Regions from separate parts of the Homo sapiens genome. Here region 1 is linked to region 2. Evidence: fine-mapped expression QTL. A gene starts in region 2. The other region holds a variant in brackets. All regions are shown on one strand. Distances are from middle to middle. Region 1 holds the start of IKBKE-AS1 (IKBKE antisense RNA 1). Region 2 holds the start of IKBKE (inhibitor of nuclear factor kappa B kinase subunit epsilon).

What was found. PIP is the estimated chance that this variant, and not a neighbour inherited with it, causes the effect.
Region 1: its variant is fine-mapped to the expression of IKBKE in whole blood (TOPMed, PIP above 0.99).

Annotation. Positions count from the first base shown.
Region 1 is chr1:206,494,112-206,499,441 of GRCh38, forward strand. It overlaps IKBKE (inhibitor of nuclear factor kappa B kinase subunit epsilon), which reads left to right. Exons shown (of 22, transcript NM_014002.4): 22 at 2,001-2,778. The coding sequence ends at 2,034. IKBKE-AS1 (IKBKE antisense RNA 1) reads right to left here and starts at 3,617. Exons shown (of 2, transcript NR_172918.1): 1 at 3,483-3,617. RefSeq lists an enhancer at 3,562-3,711. The variant C/T (reference allele first, on the strand shown) is at 2,021.
Region 2 is chr1:206,467,076-206,472,442 of GRCh38, forward strand. IKBKE (inhibitor of nuclear factor kappa B kinase subunit epsilon) reads left to right here and starts at 3,401. Exons shown (of 22, transcript NM_014002.4): 1 at 3,401-3,623; 2 at 4,081-4,170. RefSeq lists enhancers at 1-772, 773-1,636, 2,311-2,948, 2,468-2,777.

The sequences.
Region 1 (5,330 bases), 27 kb after region 2:
AAGCCCTGTTGAAGCTTAGGCATTTTCCACAAATGAGTTGACATCCTCAGGAGGTGTAGGGTTCACTTACAGCCTTTAAAATGTGAGCCTCCATGCTGTCAGGGAGATGGGGGCCTGGAGGCATGGGGTTTGTGCCTGTGTCCAGCTCTGCACTCCATATGTACTCTGTGCTCAAGCTGCCCCAGATGCCTCCTTGAATCACAGCCATCCTCAGGATAGGTGCTGTTTTCATCCCCATGTGCTACCCCAGGAAGCCACAGCGCAGACACCTTGGATACGATGCCCAAGGCCGGTGTTTCTCTGGCCTTGTGGGGCTCCCGTCCCTCCTGCCAATGCTCATGGGCCAGCCCGGGGCTGCAGGATCATCTCCTGATTTGACTCCCCTCCTTGGGGTGCTGAGGGGTCATGAGAGGTTGGTGTGGGAACGCAACAGGGCTCCGACTCTGAGATTGAGATTTTGCATACCAGTAAAAGTTCTTTCTTTTTTTTTTTTTTTTTTTTTTTTTTTTTGAGACGGAGTCTCACTCTGTCACCCAGGCTGGAGTGCAGTGGTACTGTGTCGGCTCACTGCAACCTCCATCTCCTGGGTTCAAGCAATTCTCCTGCCTCAGCCTCCTGAGTAGCCAGGATTACAGGTGTCCACCACCACACGCAGTTAATTTTTATATTTTTAGTAGAGACAGGGTTTCACCATCTTGGCCAGGCTGGTCTCAAACTCCTGGTCTCAGATGATCTGCCTGCCTTGGCCTCCCAAAGTGCTGGGATTACAGACATGAACCACTGCGCCCGGCTACGTACCAGTATAGTTCTAAAAGAAAACTCGAGAACAACAGAGTTACCAGCTGCTCACATAACCAAGTAAGCACATTTGAAGTAAAAAAAAAAAAAAAAAAAAGCCCTGTCATCTAGTAACCCTACTTTATAAAACACATTTTACCACCAAAGAGAGATAACCTCAGGATAAAGGATGGTCCTTGCTTGCCCTGAAGGCCAGCGGCCCTGTTTATATACATGTACACACGTGCACGCATCTCCCACTCCTGCCTGTCATCCTCGTGTCTGTCATTTTCCTGTCTGAGAACCAATGGCAGGGTAGAGTCAGCAGAGGTTCCTACAGGATTTCAATCCTGACCCTGCTTTTTACCAACTGCGTGACCCTGGGAGGTGTGTTCAGCTTTGAGCTTCAGTTCCCTCCCCTGTGAAACAGGAGTAATAATTTCTACCTCATGGTGTTGACATAGGGATTTAAAAAAATGAGATATGCAAGGTGCTTGCGCATAGGGGGGTGTGGAGGGAAGGGCTCACTAAATGTTACTTCTTCCCCAGAGGCCACTCCAGTCTCACACTAGAATTGGGGCCAGGAGGTAGGGAAACCAGGAGCAGAGCTTGTGGTTTGTCCCCAGAGTTTCAGAGGGTCCTTGGGTAAGGGAGGAATCTCCTCCCTGTCCTGTTCCAGCAAGAGAACTCATCCTCTTAAACACCCACAAAGAGGACATTTGACAGCTTCTTGGAAGGATTTTCCAAAACAGCCCTCTTGGTCAGGAAGTTCTAATTTTAGTGCCAACAAAAATTGCTCTTGCTGTGATATGTCATCTATTTGCAGATAGCTCAAAACTTTATTTTAGTGAATTTTCACTTCCTTATTCAGAGCTGTAGCCAAAGAGCCAAATGAATCCATTTAAACTCCTTTCCCCTCCTAAACCTTGGCTACACACTGGAATCACCAGGGGAGCTTTTAAACGTACAAATGCCTGGGTCTTGCCCCAGAGACTCTGGGTACAGCTTGTGGTTAGGATTTGCATGAGCTTTCCAAGTGATTCCAACATATAGTCAGAGGCGAGAGCCAGTGGGTTCTTGTCGGGGAGTGAGGGTGCTACAAGGGGAGAGCTGAGGACTTGAATGGCTCAGTGTTCTTGAAAGCTAATTGTGCTGGGCCCTGGAGTGTGGTCTGCAGGCCTCTCCAACAGGTGGGCACTGCTAGCCTGTACCTTTTCTTGTAGGCTAAATAGAGTCCCAGCAC[C/T]TCCTGATGTCTGAGCTCCATGGGGCACATGAGGCATCCTGAAGCATTAGAATGATTCCAACACTGCTCTTCTGCACCATGAGACCAACCCAGGGCAAGATCCCATCCCATCACATCAGCCTACCTCCCTCCTGGCTGCTGGCCAGGATGTCGCCAGCATTACCTTCCACTGCCTTTCTCCCTGGGAAGCAGCACAGCTGAGACTGGGCACCAGGCCACCTCTGTTGGGACCCACAGGAAAGAGTGTGGCAGCAACTGCCTGGCTGACCTTTCTATCTTCTCTAGGCTCAGGTACTGCTCCTCCATGCCCATGGCTGGGCCGTGGGGAGAAGAAGCTCTCATACGCCTTCCCACTCCCTCTGGTTTATAGGACTTCACTCCCTAGCCAACAGGAGAGGAGGCCTCCTGGGGTTTCCCCAGGGCAGTAGGTCAAACGACCTCATCACAGTCTTCCTTCCTCTTCAAGCGTTTCATGTTGAACACAGCTCTCTCCGCTCCCTTGTGATTTCTGAGGGTCACCACTGCCAGCCTCAGGCAACATAGAGAGCCTCCTGTTCTTTCTATGCTTGGTCTGACTGAGCCTAAAGTTGAGAAAATGGGTGGCCAAGGCCAGTGCCAGTGTCTTGGGGCCCCTTTGGCTCTCCCTCACTCTCTGAGGCTCCAGCTGGTCCTGGGACATGCAGCCAGGACTGTGAGTCTGGGCAGGTCCAAGGCCTGCACCTTCAAGAAGTGGAATAAATGTGGCCTTTGCTTCTGTTTCTGGTGGCTCTCCCTGGGCTGTGTCTGCAAGGCAGGGCTCTCAGCTGGGTGTGCTTGGCAACCAAGTGGGGTCTGGGCGGGGATCTGTGAGAAGTGCTGGGAAATGGGGGTGGGAATTGGTCATGTCCTGATTTCTGCCTTTCCCCTAAATGGGCCCTAATTTCAAGGAAGAACCCAAGGGGTGCCTTCCCATTCCTTCCATTCTCTTGCCCCCGCATCATTTGGAAAGCTGTGTGAGGGGCCTGGAACTTAGGGAGAAAGGTATTCTTCTTTTTTTTTTTCCTTCAAACCCACCATCTAAGTGGCTACTGCTTTTTTCCCATCTCCACAGCTATTCAAAACCTAGGCTATGTCCTAAATAGTGGGTTTGAATAGTATTATGGGTTATTTTAAGCATTCCTTCATTTTGTCTAGAATCTAGAGTGGTGCCTGGGCAAGGCATTCTGACTTTTGCAAACTGCTTGCAAATTTACCTCCAGCCTTCCCATAAACCAGAGCTGGACTACCCACCTACCTGGGTGGGTGAAGGAAGGGGAAGGGGAAATGCAGTAAGGTAGCCCCAGTAGGAGAGAGAGACGAGTGGGAAGCCCCACTGTGTGCTTCGAAGCGTGAAGACAGCATTATGCTTGACTGGAAATAACCCCAGAGATCCTTCCTGTCCATCTTCATGGGAGCCCCCACATCCTGAGGCCACTCTACTCACCTGGTAGGGCCAGAAATGGGGAAGGGTGAGTCCTGGAGGCTTCTGTCCTCTGTGGTGCTTCTCTGTGCAAAGACCAGCACTCTAAAGGCCTGGGGGAAGGTGGCTGGAGGTTGTTTCCTTGCATCAGGTCCAAGTGGCTTTGTGTTTGTTATTTGGGCCTCAAGCCCGTGGAGTCACTTAAGCCCAGGGGTTCAAGTCCTGGGGCCTCAGAGACCAGCTGCCGCCTTGATGTTCCTGGGTACTAGACCACCTCTCGTCCACTCTGCTGGCCTGAATTTCTGGCCAACACTTCCAGCCCATGAGTGGCCCTTCAGGGAAGTCCCACAATGGGTTTTCCCTGGCAGCAACAGCTTGCAAAACCCCATGTGCTTGGTGGAGCTCAGTGAAGGAGCCAGGGGATCCCTGAATGCCAAATACAGATTTTTGGGAGATGATATGATCCAGGCTGTATGATCTCATGAGCAAAGCCTATGAGATGTGGCGGACAAACTCACTCAAAGGCTTCAGTTCAGTTGTTTTTTTTTTTTAATTTTCCTTCTTTTTTTTTTTTTGGCAGGGTTTTGCTCTGTTGCCCAGGTTGCAGTGGAATGGTATAATCTTGGCTCACTACAGCCTCGACTCACTGTAGTGATCAAGCGATCACCACTACTACTCACTGTAGGACCAAGCAATCCTCCTGCCTCAGCCTTCCAAGTAGCTGGGACTACAGGCGTGCACCACCACACCCAGCTAATTTTATATTTTTTGTAGAGATGAGGTCTCACTATGTTGCACAAGCTGGTCTTGAACTCCTGAGCTCAAGCAACCCTCCTTTCTTGGCCTCCCAAAGTGTTAGGATTACAGGCGTGAGCCACCACGCCCAGTGGCTTCAGTTCATTTCTATGCAAGGCAGAGCTGCTGACATCAGTGCCTCCCTGGATCTGAGGTTCTGCAGAGCTGCTGATTCCATCTCAGTAGGAAATGAGGAACTGGACCAAGACCCAGAACAACCCATAAGATCCTCAGGTGTCTGAAGACCTCTTTAATGTACCTCTCCATTCTCTGCAGTGATTCCTAACATAACACTTAAAATGAAAAGAGCCCATTCAGTTCACCAGACATGATCTGAGCCCTTACAGTGTACCAGGCCCACGGGATGCTGGAACTACAGAGGTGACTAAGCCACCTTTCTGGCTCATGGGGAGCTCACCTCTATGGGGGAAGACAGGTATGCCACAGATAGCTTCCCATCATGGAGGAGGTGCTATGCTAGGAATGCAAACATCCAGTGTGGTCCTGAGTCACCATCCTCACAGGGGAGGGTGCTTAGGTCAGGCTGGGAAACTTCCTAAGTGTCAGGGAGTGACTGAGAACAGGTGAATCCAAAGTGGTCTTAGCAGGTGAGCAGGTGATACCTAGCAAAGAAGGTGTGGGAGGCATTCCTGGCCGTGGGAGCAGCAGTGGCACAGGCATGGGAAGAGCTACTAGTATTTCTATATGACTGGAGAGTAGGTTAAAGTAGGATGCTGGTATTGTGGAAAGGGAGGAGCCAGTCCAAAAGGTCCTTGCAGGCCACACTGAGGAACTTGGACTTTACCCCAGAGGACCACAGAGAGGTTTTAGGTCAAGTCCAACTGGTATTTTAAAGATACTACTCCTCGGTGCCCGTGTGGTGAGTGGAAAGTTGTGGGTAGGAATAGATTAGCTATGTGCATAAAGTGCCTAAAACTCAATATTATTATTATTATTGTTATTATGTGAGACGCAGTTTTGCTCTTGTTGCCCAGGCTGGAGTGCAATGGCACTATCTCGGCTCACCGCAACCTCTGCCTCCCGGATTCAAGCGATTCTCCTGCCTCAGCCTCCTGA
Region 2 (5,367 bases):
CAGGATGCAGTAGAACGGGAAGAATGTGCAGGAGAGGAGAGGGTGAGCTGCAGGGTACAAGCGGGAGGGTTGGCCATGGCCACTAGAAGAGGCTCAAGAAGAGGCACTTCCTGCTGTCGCGTGGGAGGGAAGGCAGGTGAGTACAGACACAGGGCAGGCAGTGGATGTGGGGGAGGAAATGAGGGGGTTCCCTTCTGATTGCTTCTTTTATCTAAGCGAAGTTTAAGGCAAGGTCCTTAGCTGACAGTGTAGGAGGGAACAGTGCAGAGGAGGTTTGAAGAGTGAAGACAATGAGAGAAACACTTGCTTTTCCTCGAAGAGAGACGACGCTGGCACCGGCGCCGATTTCCTTCAGTGGCCTGGATGCTGCCTCACAGCTTGTCCCACTGCTTGGGGCCATAGCAGCAAGATTGGCTGCAGTGTTTGTCCCTCCTTCTGCACCCAAAGCTCCTAGCCAGAGCTGACCCCTGAAGGTGACAAAGAGCTGGGCTCTGAGACCTCGTCCCTCAGCCCTTTGCCCTTGTGACTGAGCACAGCAAAAACGTATGGCCTGGCAATGCCCCCCAGCCTCTTCCATATGCACCCCAACCAGCACCCGAGTCCTTTCCCCTCCCCTTTAAGGCACTGGGCCGGCGAGTCAGTTGTGAAAAACTGGCTCAGGCCCCTTAGAGGTGGAAAAAGAAATTAATATCTTTTCAGAGCAGACCAGGTGCCAGGAGCTTCATCTCATTTTACTTTCAAACCAGCCCTATGAGAAACGTCGAGTGACGTGCTAGGGTCATCCACAGTAGGTGGTAAAATCTGAACTCAAACCTCCATGGCAATGGAGCTAGCCCCTGCCCTTCTTACTATACTTTCAGCCTCTTTGTAGAAGTCACATGAGATTTTCTTTCTGACAGCTGCTGTCAAGGGCCGCCCTCTTCCACCTCTGGTCCTTGCACTACCCTTGGATTGCCACTTCTATTTCTAGGACTCCTCAGAGCCACTTGGGAACACGTGGTGGGGACTCTTACAGACTTCCTCTTCCCTTCTGGAGCCCGCCAGCCCCCTGCACCTTCTCGGATGCAACCGGCTGTGCTGCCCGGCTGGGGCACAGGCAAGACATTGCTTCACTGTGTCCACACAGAGGATGTGACCTCACAGAGGATGCGCAAGGAAACTTGATCTGTCACGGCACATGGCTCCAGGCCACCTCTACCTCTCTCCCTTTTCACAGCCTCAGTCCGGCTCTTCTCATGCTTCTGTGCCTCTGCACATGTGCCCACAGCCTGGAATTCCATTCCCCCAGCCCCCTCTCCTCTGCCCAACTCCCCTTTTCCTAAAGTCTGGCCAAGCAACCCTTCTGGAAAGCCCTTCTTGATCACCTTCCTCCCCGCTGCGCGTCTGCCACTCATAGCATCTGCCATGCCATCCTGGACCTCCAGGCTCCTGATGGGATGCCCACCTTTACATCCTGAGCACACAGTGCCTGCCTCATAGCAGGTGCTAGACACATGGTAGTTTCCTTTGAATGTGCTAAATATGCTGGGAAAGAGATTGACGGAGAGAGGAAAGTAAGAGTGCTGGTGAGGACCCAGCAGGTTCATCAGGGAAAAAAGTGGGTAAACATTACGGATTGTCTAAGTTATGTAGCAAACCTCGGTGCCCTAAAGCAACAAAGGCTGATTTCTCACCAAAGCCAATGTCCCTTGTGGACCAGCAGGGGAACTCTGCTCAGGACAGTCACTCAAGGACCCAGACTAACAGAATCACACTGCCAGAAAGCAGAGTTCTGGGAGGGTCTTGCATCAGGAAATAAATGCTTTGGTGGGGAACTCACATGCTCCCCCTATCACAAAGTAACTAGGATGTGCAGTTCTCCCATGTGCCAGGCAGGCAGAAACCTGGGAAGACTAGGCTGGGTGCAGTGGCTCACGCCTGTAATCCCGGCACTTTGGGAGACTGAGGCAGGTGGATCAGGAGGTTGGGAGATCTAGACCAACCTGCTCAATCCACCTCACCAACCACACAGTGAAACCCCATCTCTACTAAAAATACAAAAAATTAGCCACTGGCTCACGCCTGTAATCCCGGCACTTTGGGAGGCTGAGGCAGGTGGATCAGGAGGTTGGGAGATCAAGTCCAACCTGTTCAATCCACCTCACCAACCACACAGTGAAACCCCATCTCTACTAAAAATACAAAAAGTTAGCCGGGCATGGTGGTGCATGCCTGTAGTCCCAGATACTTGGGAGGCTGAGGCAGAAGAATCACTTGAACCCAGGAGGTGGAGGTTGCAGTGAGCTAACATCATGCCACTGCACTCCAGCCTGGGTGACAGAGTGAGACTCCATCTCAAAAAAAAAAAGCAAGCTGGGAAGACTGGGTGGAACATGAGGATCTCAGGCACTCAGGCACATTCCTCCTGGTCCTGATGTGAGAAGTTGCAGCAACTCCTCCAGCTGGAGGTGTTATGGGGAGTTCTCTTTATCTGAGCACTAGGCAGTTCTCAGCTCTGCTCCTGTTCTAGTGTCACTGTGGGAGGGGTGGGGCTGGCGGAGGAAACCACCAGGTGTGGCCATGGGAAAGTCCCTCCAACATTCTATAGAAACATGGAATTTCCTGGTTTTAACCATTTCATATCCAACTGCCATCTCTGAGCTGACCAGAGCAGGACAGACCCCTCCAGCCTCCTAGGACATTTGATGTGGGGCATCGAGTCCTGGCTGGGAAGTTGGCACCTGGGTGCCAGCCCCAGCAGTCTCTGAAGAGCATGGGTAAATTACTGAAGTGTGTGGGCCTCCATGCCTTCAATGCCTTTCTGTAAAATGCTTTCCAAGCTCCCAAACAATTCCAAATATATCCATGTCATCCAATCAACCCACAGAGTAGCTGTTACTCTGCGGGTGAGTGAGCTGGCTGGGAGGGGCTGCATGCTGTGTGCTCAGGTCACACTGGAAGGCATCAGCTGGGTCCCCGCGCTTGCTCTCGGACCTCTGCAGGCCTCCTGGGAAGGTGACTCAGATCCAACTTCTAGGACTGGATCGGCATAGCTCCCACACTTCCTTGGGGTTCCTGGGTGTGGGAGCATGGACTTCCCAGGCAGCTTTCCACTTAGTTAACTTGCCCAACCTGCTCTGTTGACTCTGGGAAGAGCCCTGAACTTCCCTGCTCCAGTGAACTGTGGGAGATGCCAAAACAGCACCCAGCTGCCCATCAAGATTACCAGAAGGGCCCCAGTTCCTGGCTTCTCTGTGGCTCACACTCTGGTCCTATTGCCTACCCTTGGGAACTCAGAGCATCCTCTTTCTCTTTTCTGCTGAGCTGGTGGCTGCACCGAGTTGCCTCTGTCTCTTTAAGAGAGAAAGAGAGAGCGAGAGACGGAAATCAGGAAGTGCGAGAGAGCTGAGAGCCAGGACTCAGTGCTGAGCTTGGTGTCCCACCGCCACAAGGAGGCAGGGAAGAAACCCACTAGTCCCAGCTCCTGGGGTGGCACAGACATTGCAACTGGCCCTGCCTGTGGGTCCTAGGGGCCCTTGGCTACCAGGAGGCTAAGAACACTGCTCATGAATGACAGTGAGCCCTGAAAGCTCTGGGGGTGTCACCCAGTCCCACAAGCCTGCATCCCCTGCAGTGGAGATGGGGTGAGTGTGCAGCGTGCGGAGGGGGGTGGGGGTGGAATGAGGGGCCAGACAAGGGGCAGCTGCAGGGCAGCTCAGCCGGGTGCAGGGGTGTGGGCTTGTTGGCAGCGGTGCTCTCACATAGAGCGTTGTGTGTGGCATGGAGGTGAGCCACCACGGGCCAACCACAAGCCCTCCCTGGGCTCTGCTTACCAACACCCAAAGCCAGCGATCAGCACCCAGCGCCTGCCCTCACCTTTCCCGGGGTCTTTCTCCCTGGCCGGAGTCTCAGGAGTAGGAGACGCTGGGAAAGGCTCCCTGAACAGTTTGGGAATAGAGCTGGAAACCCCCAGCCCAGCCCTGTGGGGGAAGGTGACAAACAGGAAAGGGTTAAAGGGCTAGGGCCGGCGGCCTTTGATGGAGGCTGAGAAGCAACTGCACTGAGGGGCGCCTCTCATCCGCCCTCCTCTTTCCGGTGTAGCTCAGCTCCTGGACGTGCCACAGACAGAAAGCATAACATACACTCGCCAGGAAGAGCCTTTGCCTGACTCAGGGCAGCTCAGAGTGTGGGGTAAGTGCACTTGGCCACAGCAGAGCCCTGAGGAGGGAGGGGAGGGGAGAGGTGGGTGGGTGGTGTCTCACATGCTTCACTGTCCACTGCTCATTCATCCAACCACTGGCTGAGGGCCACTGAGCCCTTCTTTGCACCAGGTGCTTGGGGTGGTGGGGGGAGGATCTGCAGAGCGTGCAGAGTTAAGCCAGATGTGCCACAACCAGAGCTCCCGGGCACAGAATCCAGGGGCACACCGCTTGTCTGGGGGTCTGCGCTTTGCACCTCACTGCCTATTATCCCAGAGTCCTGAGCTGTTCCTTGCCCCAGTATCAGAGCCCTTGGCCTTGATTTCAGCCTGCTGTGCTCCAACCCCAGCCCCAGCCCCCAGACCTGCTGGCTGCCTCCAGCCTCAGCGGGGAAAACCAGACCCACTCATTCATGCTGAGCTACTGTGTTGTCTTCAGGAAGCCTCTCAGTACCTCAGTTGCTTCTGTGTAATGTCCGCTCCTACCTGATCTGAAACTAGGAGTTGACCACCGATCTCTTCAAGGGGCCTCTGGCTCAATGAAATGACATTATCAAGGATTTGCATTTTTAAAAAAGATTACACAGAGAAAAAGTTCAGAGCGAAGGAACATAGGATTCCAGGCATGGCAACCCTCAGTTTGAGAACCTGTAAGATGTTAGAACACGAAGATGCCTTTTCTAGTCTAGCGTTATTTAAAAGTATTTAAGTGGCCAGGCATGGTGGCTCACACCTGTAATCCCAGCAATTTTTTGGGGAAGCCCATGTGGCCGGATTGCCTGAGCTCAGGAGTTCAAGACCAGCCTGGGCAACATGGCAAAAACCCATCTCTACTAAAAATACAAAAGACAGCCAGGTGTGGTGGTGCACACCTATGGTCCTAAGCTCCTCAGGAGGCTGAGTTGGGAGGATTGCTTGAGCCCAGGGGGTGGAGGTTGCAGTGAGTCATGATTGTACCACTGCACCCCAGCCTGGATGACAGAGTGAGACCTTACGTCAAAATAAAAAAAAGAAAAAGGAAAAAGAAAGTATTTAAAGGATGGTGGCCCTTCTAATGCTTCTGTCCCCAGGTATCCCAAAAAGGCCAGCACTGGCCTTATTTTTCAAAGAGAAATTGAGTTTAACTTCTGAGGATACACTTTCTGGTACTAATTGCTTTAGGAGAACTAGGCTTTGGGGAAAAGATGAGG